Regions from separate parts of the Homo sapiens genome. Here region 2 is linked to region 1. The links come from fine-mapping of genetic effects on gene expression. A gene starts in region 1. The other region holds a variant in brackets. All regions are shown on one strand. Distances are from middle to middle.

Evidence for each region. PIP is the estimated chance that this variant, and not a neighbour inherited with it, causes the effect. A credible set is the group of variants that fine-mapping cannot tell apart.
Region 2: its variant is the best candidate, but not a certain one, in a credible set for the expression of GAS2L1 in anterior cingulate cortex (GTEx, PIP 0.62).

The regions. Positions count from the first base shown.
Region 1 is chr22:29,303,717-29,308,716 of GRCh38, forward strand. It overlaps GAS2L1 (growth arrest specific 2 like 1), which reads left to right and starts at 2,934. Exons shown (of 6, transcript NM_001362985.3): 1 at 2,934-3,437; 2 at 4,371-5,000. The coding sequence starts at 4,390. RefSeq lists enhancers at 1,941-2,686, 2,291-2,340, 2,687-3,430 and silencers at 3,101-3,370, 3,391-3,440, 3,531-3,670.
Region 2 is chr22:29,255,396-29,260,395 of GRCh38, forward strand. It overlaps EMID1 (EMI domain containing 1), which reads left to right. Exons shown (of 15, transcript NM_133455.4): 15 at 3,422-4,202. The coding sequence ends at 3,549. It overlaps RHBDD3 (rhomboid domain containing 3), which reads right to left. Exons shown (of 7, transcript NM_012265.3): 6 at 4,931-5,000; 7 at 4,477-4,842. The coding sequence ends at 4,665. Among named protein-coding and RNA genes, the nearest start is that of RHBDD3, 10 kb to the right of the region's middle. RefSeq lists an enhancer at 4,201-5,000. The variant C/T (reference allele first, on the strand shown) is at 2,620.

The DNA.
Region 1 (5,000 bases):
CTCTTATCACAAGCCACAGCTCATGGGAGAGAAGGAGGAAGGAATCTCGTGTGTGTGTGTGTGTGTGTGTGTGTGTGTGTGTGTGTGTGTGTGTGACGGAGTCTCGCTCTGTCGCCCAGACTGGAGTGCAGTGGCGCAATCTCTGATCTCTGCTCACTGCAAGCTCCGCCTCTCGGGCTCACGCCATTCTCCTGCCTCAGCCTCCAGAGTAGCTGGGACTACAGGCACCCGCCACCACACCCAGAGAATTTTTTGTATTTTTAGTGGAGACGGGGTTTCACCGTGTTAACCAGGATGGTCTCGATCTCCCGACCTCATGATCCACCCGCCTCGGCCTCCCAAAGTGCCGGGATTACAGGCGTGAGCTACTGCGCCCAGCAGAAGGAATTTCTTTATAATCCCTCCTCCCCAGAGAAGTGGATATGCTGAGCCAGGCCACACTGAGCTGGGTAGTGGCATTATTTTTCACAACCCCATGATGTAACTACTACTACTGTCCCATTCTGCAGATGGTGCCACTGAGGCTCAGGGAGCTTCACCATCCCACCCAATGACCAATGACAGAGCCTGGGTTCCGTCCAACTTCACCCATGTCCAAAACCCCAAAATGCAGCAAGGTAGGTATAAGCAGGAGTCAAATTCCTGCACAGCTGCTGGCTACACATATCCCATGCCTTCTCTGGGCCTCAGTTTCCCCAAATTGTAAAATGAGAACACCTAAGAGTATCATAGCTCATCGGGGTATTTTGAAGATGAAACTGTTAAATGTCCACACCCTGATTCACCCCCACCCCAAACCTGCAACCCTCCTCCACCTCCAGCAGCCCTTCCCTCCCCAGGTGTTAGCACCTCCGCCCTCCCAGTGCTCAGCCCTGGGAGTTGTCCTGGATTCCGTCCTCACACTCAACCAATCCACCAGCACATCAGCTCTCCCCTCACAATATGGCCAGAATCCAGCGCCCTCTCACCACCTGGTTTCCTCTGAGGCTCCAGCTCCTGCCCTGGCCCACCACAGCAGCCCCAGGGAATGTTTTTTTTTTTTTGAGACGGAGTCTCGCTCTGTCGCCCAGGCTGGAGTGCAGTGGCACGATCTGGGCTCACTGCAAGCTCCGCCTCCCAGGTTCACACCATTCTCCTTCTCCTGCCTCAGCCTGCCAAGTAGCTGGGACTACAGGTGCCCGCCACCACGCCTGGCTAATTTTTTTGTATTTTTTTAGTAGAGACAGGGTTTCACCATGTTAGCCAGGATGGTCTCGATTTCCCGATCTCGTGATCCGCACGCCTCGGCCTCTCAAAGTGCTGGGATTACAGGCGTGAGCCGCCGCGCCCGGCCGGGAATGTTAAGACCTAAGCCAACCACCCCTGCTCTAAATCACTGCATGGCTCCCATGTCCCTCAAAAGAGACACGGCCCCCAAGGCCCTGCTTAACCGGCCCTGGGGTCTCTCTAATCTCTCTACCTCCTCCCTCACCCACCTCCCTGCACTCCAGCCTCAGCCACCTCCCCAGTCTTCTTGAGCACGCCGGACACATGCCCACCATGGGGCCTTTGCACTGGCCGTTCCCTCTCCCTCTCCAGATATCCCCGACCTTCCTCCCTCACTTCCTTTCCTGATGAGGGATTTTAAATTGCAGCCCCCTCACACCCACACCCTCACCCGGCTCCATCCCTGTCTTCTCTGCACCTCATCCCTGTCTCTGCCCTGGGGCTGCCTCCCTGCCAGACTTGGACAACAGGCCCTGAGAGCTGGCTCTGCTTGGTTCCCTGCTGTTTTGCTGTTGATTTCCAGTGCCCAAAGAGACCCAGCACACAGTAGGTGCCACGCAGGTGTCAGCCTTGAGGATTGCTAGTTACTGCCTTCCTCACTGGAGGAAGTGCCATGGGGGGCGCTGAGGTGAGAAAACGCCTTTGAAAAGGTCACACAGGCCAGGCAAGTGGCTCACACCTGTAATCCCAGCCCTTTGGGAGGTGGAGGCGGGCAGATCACCTTAGGTCAGGAGTTCGAGACCAACCTGGCCAACATGGTGAACTTGTCTCTACTAAAAATACAAAAAGCCGGGCGTGGTGGCAGGTATCAGTAATCCCAGCTACTCGGGAGGCTGAGGCAGGAGAATCGCTTGAACCCCGGAGGTAGAGGTTGCAATGAGCCCAGATCCAGCCACTGTACTCCAGCCTGAGCGACAGAGCGAGACAAAAAAAAAAAAAAAAAAAAAAAGGAAGAAAATAAAAAAGAAAAGGTCACAAGGACTCTCTGGGATGCCTGTGAATGCCTGGCACCAAGAGGCCTGGCTCACAGGTGCTCAACCAATGCTGCTGATCCGTGGATGAGGGCGTCCCCATAATCGTCATGTTCAAATCCTGGCTCCACCAGCTGCTCTCCTGACTGTGCCCCAGTTGGGCATGAGTGTCCTTCACAGAGGTGACACACCAGTTCATTCAGGTCAAGGGCGCAGAGCAGTCCTGGCAGCACACAGTAGGAGATTTATTGGAGCTCTGAGCCTGGCTGTGGTTGGCGGCTTCCCTGCAGGCCTGCCCCACCCGTGTAGCATGGCTGCCGCCCAGACCCGCCCGACGTCCCGCCCAGCCCAGCCGGCAGCAGCAGGGGGCAGGATTTCCCGCTGATCCCGGCGGTCCGTCCTCTGCAGTTTAAAAAGAGCCCAGCGGGGCTTAACCCTCCCGCGTCCGGCCGGCCTCCGATGCCCCCCGTCCCCTGTTCTGTGCGGAACTCCGGCTTTGGCCATCTGCCTACTTCTCTGAGCTTCAGTATCCTCATCTGTAAAACCGGTTCCCCTCATTTCAGGGTCAAAAATGAGCATTCAGTGAGCACAAGGAGCCCTCAGTCGCCAGGGGCATCCTCCCCCTCCCCGCGGCGGTGCCGTTTATCTGGCCAGGGGAGGTCCACCCGGGAGGAGGTGACTTTGCAGCCTCCAGCCGCTATCGCTTCCTGCCTTCATCTTGGGAACAGGCCGTGCTGTGCGCCAGCCCGGGGAGCCCACCGTCTGGGGAGGGGGGCGATTAAAAGGTCCCAACCTCCTCCCCAGGAGACCAAAGAGGTTGGACGGGGCCCCGGGTACTAGGCTGGGTGGGGGTTGGGCGCCTGGGCCGGTCGCAGTTGTCTGGGGGCCCTGGGGCTCTCTGCGTCGAGAGCGCTCGAAGACCCGGGATTCCTGGCCCGATCGCGGGCGGGGGGAGACCCCAGCTCCACCCCAGCTCCCGCCGGCTCGGGGAAGGGGCGGCCCCTTTAAGAGCGCGCGGCCCCGCCCGCCCCCTCCGGGCAGGATCCGAATTCCAGGGAGGCGGGGCGGAGACGGCGGCGAGGAGGAGGCCGCGGCGCGGGACGCATAGAGCTGCGGCTCGGGCGGCGCCTCCCTGCGGCGGCCCGGCCCGGCTCCGGCCCCCGCTGGGGCAATGCTCCCCGGGGCCGCGGGATGAGCCAGGTGAGCGCGGAGACCCCCAGCACTCCCTGCCTGGTGCGCATGGACGGGGGTGGGGAGGCGGGGCGGGAAGCGGCGTCCTCGGCCTCTGTTCCCCGGGGCTGTGTGACCTTGGGCGGCCCCGCACCCTCTCTGGGCCCAGAGCCCCAGCACCGGCAGGGCCTGCGGAGGCCGCTCTGAGTCCTGGCCCCGCAGGCACCGGCCTGGAGCGCTGGGGAGGCTTCTTGGAGGAGGCGGGGCCTGGCCCTGGCCCCGGATCGCCGAGACCGGCCACGCTGCGCCGCCTGGACGCCGGGCTCCTCCACCCACAGCTCTGCGACCTTCACGAGCTCGACCCTTTCTGCGCCTCAGTTTCCTCATCTATAAAATGGAGATAATGCCTCCGCGCGCTGAGCCCGAGCGCGGTCGTGCTGTTACACTATTGCTGCTGCTATGTCGTTAATGACGGCACAGCCCTTATGGAAGGGGGGCCAAGGAAGGCACGGGGACCTTCCCGCAGGACATGGGGTGGGCACCAGCCCTAAGCCATGCACATAACCCACTCTGAGGTCAGGACCTGGGTTCCTTTCGTGTCCACTGGGGGCCTTAGCCGTTGTCTTCACTTCTCTAGGTCCCAGCCCTTCACAATGGGCGCGCCTCCCTGCCTGAGAGGGAGGCCCCAGCCAAGCCCCAGTTTCCACCGCAAAAAGCCACACAGCAAACACTTAATGGACCCTAAATTTATAAAAATTATCCCATAGAGTCCTATGAGGCAGGGAATGTTACTGTACCCATTTCGCAGATGAGGAAACTTGGGGCACCGACATTTCCCAGAGCCAACATGTAAACCAGGCATTTGGCCTGAGTGACAGACTGGTGCAGGTGGCCAGCAGCTTAATTTGTACTGAGCGCTTACTGGGTCCCCACAGCGATCCTGAACTGTGTTCCTGCCCACAGTGACTCGGCCGGTCCGGGCATGGCAGACCCAGTGGCGGGCATCGCGGGCTCGGCGGCCAAGAGCGTGCGGCCATTTCGCTCCAGTGAGGCCTACGTGGAGGCCATGAAGGAGGACCTGGCCGAGTGGCTCAATGCCTTGTACGGCCTGGGTCTCCCGGGTGGTGGCGATGGCTTCCTGACAGGGCTGGCCACGGGCACGACCCTGTGCCAACATGCCAACGCCGTGACCGAGGCTGCCCGTGCATTGGCAGCCGCCCGCCCGGCCCGAGGTGTGGCCTTCCAGGCGCACAGTGTAGTGCCTGGCTCCTTCATGGCGCGCGACAACGTGGCCACCTTCATCGGCTGGTGCCGCGTGGAGCTGGGTGTGCCGGAGGTGCTCATGTTTGAGACTGAGGACCTGGTGCTGCGCAAGAACGAGAAGAGCGTGGTGCTGTGCCTGCTGGAGGTGGCGCGGCGTGGGGCACGCCTGGGCCTGCTGGCCCCACGCCTCGTGCAGTTTGAGCAGGAGATTGAGCGGGAGCTGCGTGCTGCACCCCCAGCCCCCAACGCCCCTGCCGCTGGGGAGGACACCACTGAAACCGCCCCCGCACCAGGGACTCCTGCCCGCGGCCCCCGCATGACACCCAGCGA
Region 2 (5,000 bases), 48 kb before region 1:
TCCAGGAAGGGCCTGGAAAAGGCCTGGGCATGCAGAAGGCGCCTTCCGATGCTTGGCCCAGGCCAGCGGACACTCATTCTTCATCCAGCCAGCCAGCCAGCAAATGGTGCCTGGCAGAGAGAAGGCTCTGGTCACTTGAGTGAATGCGCACCTGCTCTGTGCCAGGCACCTTGCTGGGACAGGCTCCACAAGATAAGACAGACACAGTCCTGCCCTTGAGGAGTGTAGGGTGCTGGGGGGCTCAGGAGAACCCTGACACTGGTAGAGAAACCCAGGTGAGCTACACTGCAGGAAAGGGAGTACAGGCAGCCATGGAAATACAGAAGTGCCTCTGGCCTGGCCCAGAGGAGGTTGGAGGGGGGTCAGGGAGGTCTTCCTGGAGGAGGTGATATCTAAGTGAAGACTTGAAGGGCAAGGATCTGGGGAGAGTGAACAGGCAGAGAAACAGCATAAGCGAAGGCCAAGAGACCAGAAGGAGCCTAGAAGCAACAGAATCTGGCAGGGCCTAGATTGAGAAGGTCCTAGAAGGCAGGTTGGGGTAGTACAGGAGGTGGTTAGACACCAGTGGGTGGTACCCCTCCTTGCGTCTGGCTCCTGGGAGTGAGGCTGAGAAAATCTCTCCCCATGAAACTGGAGCCTGTGGCTGGCCCTGAAGAAAGGAAGGGATTGGCCACCCGAGGGGCTGAGCTCTATTCCTCACCTGCCCAGCCGCCCTATCTCGCAGCCCAGTGAGCACATCAGTGCACAGAGGCCTCCATATCATGTCCAACCTCGCATCTATTTTAAAGACTGAGAGGCCGGTCATGTTAGCTCACACCTGTAATCCTAGCACTTTGGGAGGCCGAGGCGTATGGATCACCTGAGGTCAAGAGTTCAAGACCAGCCTGGGCAACATGGCGAAACCCCGTCTCTACTAAAAATTAGTTGGGTGTGGTGGCGGGCACCCGTAATCCCAGCTACTCGGGAGGCTGAGGCGGAGAATCACTTGAACCCAAGAGGCAGAGGTTGCAGTGAGCCGAGACCGCACCACTGTACTCCAGCCTGGGTGACAGAGCGAGACTCCATCTCAAAAAAAAAAAAAAAAAAAAGACTGAGAAACTTAGATCCCAAGCAGGAAGAAGGGTTAAGGTTAGAGCCCAGCCTCCTTCATCCAGCAAAACTGTAGGGAGCACTCATTGAAAGCCAGACCTGTTGGGCACTGGTGCTCTGGAGTACAGATAGGTGCTGGCCTTGGGGAGCTGGCCATGAGTGGCAGGGAATCGTATCTACGGAGATATGGGGTAGGGGAGCATGGAAGGATATGGATGAGGAAGAGTCACTTGTCCCTAGGGGTTGGAGAAGGCTTCTTGGAAGAGGGGACTCTGCGTTGCGTCCTGGAAGATCCCAATGAGTGTGCCAGGTGGGGAAGTGGGTCGGGCAGCCTTGAGAGAGTCCTGCCTGTGCAGAGGCCCAGAGCCTGGGAAGGGTGTGGGGTCTGCTTCCAAAGCTCCTCCCACAGTGCCACATGCTTCTCTAACTTCTAGAAACTTCAGTGCCTAGCTCCCAGACCTCCTCCCCTCTTACAGAGAGGGGCCAAGGACCAAATCTCAGGCTCTCAGAACCTTTTTAGGTGTCTCCACCTCCTCTCTGAGGATTGGAGCAGGAGCTAGAAGGGACACATTTGAGCCACCATGTCCCTGGATCTGTCCCTGCCTTCAGCCAGCTCTGTCTCTGACAGCCCAGGGAGAAAAGTGCCAGACACCTCAGAAGTCCCACACCCACTGCCAGTGGCCCCTCAAGCCAGCTTGGGTCGGGGCTTGGAGGGACAGGTCGGGGGACTGGGAAATGGGACAGGGAAGGAGGTGGGACCCTCCCCATTGGCGCAACATACACATCAGGTGCTACTGAAGACCCAGATGGGGTTCATGTTTAGGTTATAATCAATAATTATGATAATAGTATCAGCTGCCACGTGTCTGGCCCACCTGGGCTGGATTGATCATCTCCAATCTCTTAGAGGAGTAAACTTGCTAGGTGAGCGATGCCGTGGCCATTTTACAGGTGAAGAAACAGAAGCTCAGAGGCTCCTGTGACTGCTTCAGAGTCACAGGAATGGGAATGGTCAGGCTAGGGGTCCACCTCAGGTCTCCCCTCTAAAGTCCTGGCCCTTTGGACTGCATCAGCAAAGGTTTGCTGACTCTGCCACTCATCCAGGGCCCCAAATTTGATTGTGACAAACTCACAGGGGCCAGACCTGCAGGAGACCTGGGTGGAAGCGACACCAACCTAGTAACCATAATAATCCAGCATTTCCCGTGAAAACCACTTTCCAGTCCTGGTCACGGTAAACACATGTATCACAAGGGTGTGAAAATGGGACTATTATGCCCACGTTCCAGATGACGCTCAGAGGTTCTATGACTTGCCCAAGGCCACATAACTGGCAGAGTGGGACCAAGCCATGATCCCAGCTGGCATTGGGGCCAGTGCTCTGTGCCACTCCCCTCCCACGCTCCCTAAGGCATGGAATGTCCCTTTCAGTGACCACACATGCCTGTCTGCTCCGGGAGCCCTCAACTCAGCCCAGAGGTGCAGGGCAGGCTGGGCCACACAGGGTCGGGGCACTGGCAGTCATGATTA[C/T]GACGGACAGCCCACTCCATGGCAGTGCCCTCAGTGGGAACCTGGTGTTTACCAGAACCCAAGTATCTGTCCTATGGAGGCTTAGCCAAGTCCTCCACCGTGGCCCTCTCCTCCCTGAGTGTCCATCTCCCCCTAGAAAAACAGCCTATTCTTCTGACCTGCCTGGCCTGCTCATTTTACTTTGGGAAGGGCTGAGATGATAGGCACAGAAGGCTTCCTGGAGGAAATGGCTCCTACCCTTGGTTTTGAAGGATGAGTAGTTTTCTGGTTCCATCCGGAACTGTCCCTGTTTCAGAGATGAGATGACTGAGGCCCTGACAGAGGTCCAGCTTGCCCAAGACTGCACAGTAGGTCAGTGGCAGAGCCTGGCCTCCTAAGCTCTTTCCCCCAACTGGTGGCCTAGCCCATGTCTGTTCCCTGGCCTCAGTTTACCCAGCTACCAAATGGGGATGACTCAGGGCACACCTCCACCCCAAAATGAATAGAAAAAGAAGCAGCCTTTCTATGAAGCATTCACTGCATCTAAACACTTCCTAAAGGAGGTGGGTGTGGTTATCCCCACCTGACAAAGCAGGAAGCAGAGGCCCTGAGTGCTCTCCTTGGGCTGGGGGGCTGGTAAGTCCTGGCGTGAGGCACCAACCAATCTGCAGACCCCCTTTCCCACAGCTCTGCAGCCAGATACCAGGGTGGATTATACCTGGCAGAGCGTGCCCGGTTCTGCCACCCCCTAGAGGGCCAAGGGGAGGTGGGCACCTCACATGAACCCCTCTAATGTGGCCTCTCTCCTTCTTCCCTCCGGCAGAACCAGAGCTGGGGTCTGGGGCGGGCCCTGCCGGCACAGGCACCCCCAGCCTCCTTCGGGGCAAGAGGGGCGGACATGCAACCAACTACCGGATCGTGGCCCCCAGGAGCCGGGACGAGAGAGGCTGAGGGTGGTGGCGGCCCCTGAGGCAGACCAGGCCAGGCTTCCCCTCCTACCTGGACTCGGCCAGCTGCCTCCAGGGACCGCCCGTCCATATTTATTAATGTCCTCAGGGTCCCTTCTGCCATCTAGGCCTTAGGGGTAAGCAGGTCTCAGTCCTGGCACCATGCACATGTCTGAGGCTGAGCAAGGGCTGAGAGGAGAGGCTTGGGCCTCAGTTTCCCTCTGTGAAGTGGGGGGAGGCAGGCCTTCAAGGAGGGATAGAGGTACAAGGCTTCGTCTCATCTGCTGTCTGAGCATCCAGGCCCAAAGGCACTGAGGGAGTCAGGAGCTGGGGCTCGGCACATGCAGAGATGACAGGGCAGGGGGCAGTCTTCCTCCCCCTCCCCGACCAAACCTCGGGGAGCCCTCCTGTGCCCCTCCCTCCTTGTTGTCCAGTGCTGGGCTCCCCACCCCGAGGTCAGGCTGCCCAATCCTCTGACTGGATCACCGGGGGCTTCTTGCCTCAGTTCTTCCCTCTGAGCCCCCAGGCCCTCCCGCATCTCAGGTTGGGGATGGGGACATGGAGAGGAAGGGGCCGCCTACTCCTGCAAATGCTTGTGACAGATGCCAGGAGGTAGATGTGTGCTGGCCAATAAAGGCCCCTACCTGATTCCCCGCAGCTTGGTCTCAGTGTGTGCTTAGATGGGGGCAGCTGGGAATGAGGCTACGACGGAGAGGGCTAGAAATGGGCGGTGGAGAATGCTCTGTGCTGGAGGACAGAGCCTCCTGGAGGTATAGGCTGCAAGGTGCAGGGCCAGGAAGCCTGTGTCTCTGGACATCAGGGAACAGCTCTCCCACAACTGGTCATTCATTTGGTGCTCACTCATTCATTCATCCCCCTGATGCCAACACAGAAGAGTCAAACACAACTGCTGCCTCCAAGGAGGTCCAGGTTGAAAAACAAACTGGTTTTTATTCTAAACACGTACTAGGGCAGCATGCTGGGGGGCCTCTCCTGCCTCCAGAGGTGCCCCTGCTCCCCACTGTGGCCCTCTTTAGACAGAGTAGGAGCTCGGGCTACCCACATGCAGCCCAGCCCTTAGCACCCAAGGGCCTGCCTGTGCCCCACTCTCTGCCTGGGCTAGGGAGGCCCAGGACCCTCGGAGTGGGCAGGCCCACCCTTTCCATGGGTCACCAGGGTCTCAGTGCCCACTTGTCCTCCAACCAACAGTGACACGGCACCCTCCACACGGCCTGTGGCTGCCAGTGCCACCACCGCCTGCTCCGTAGGGAAGCCCATGCGCTCCAGCTGCTGCAGCCTGTTGGGGGTGGGGGGAGAAGTGGGGAGTGTCAGGGCCACCCCGGCCCCTATACCAGGGGACCCCACCTCTGCCCACCCCACCTTACCGCAGAGAGGAGACAGAGGACTTGGACAGCCATGGTGCGCTCTGGGGTTCCTGGGCTGGCCCGTCAAGAA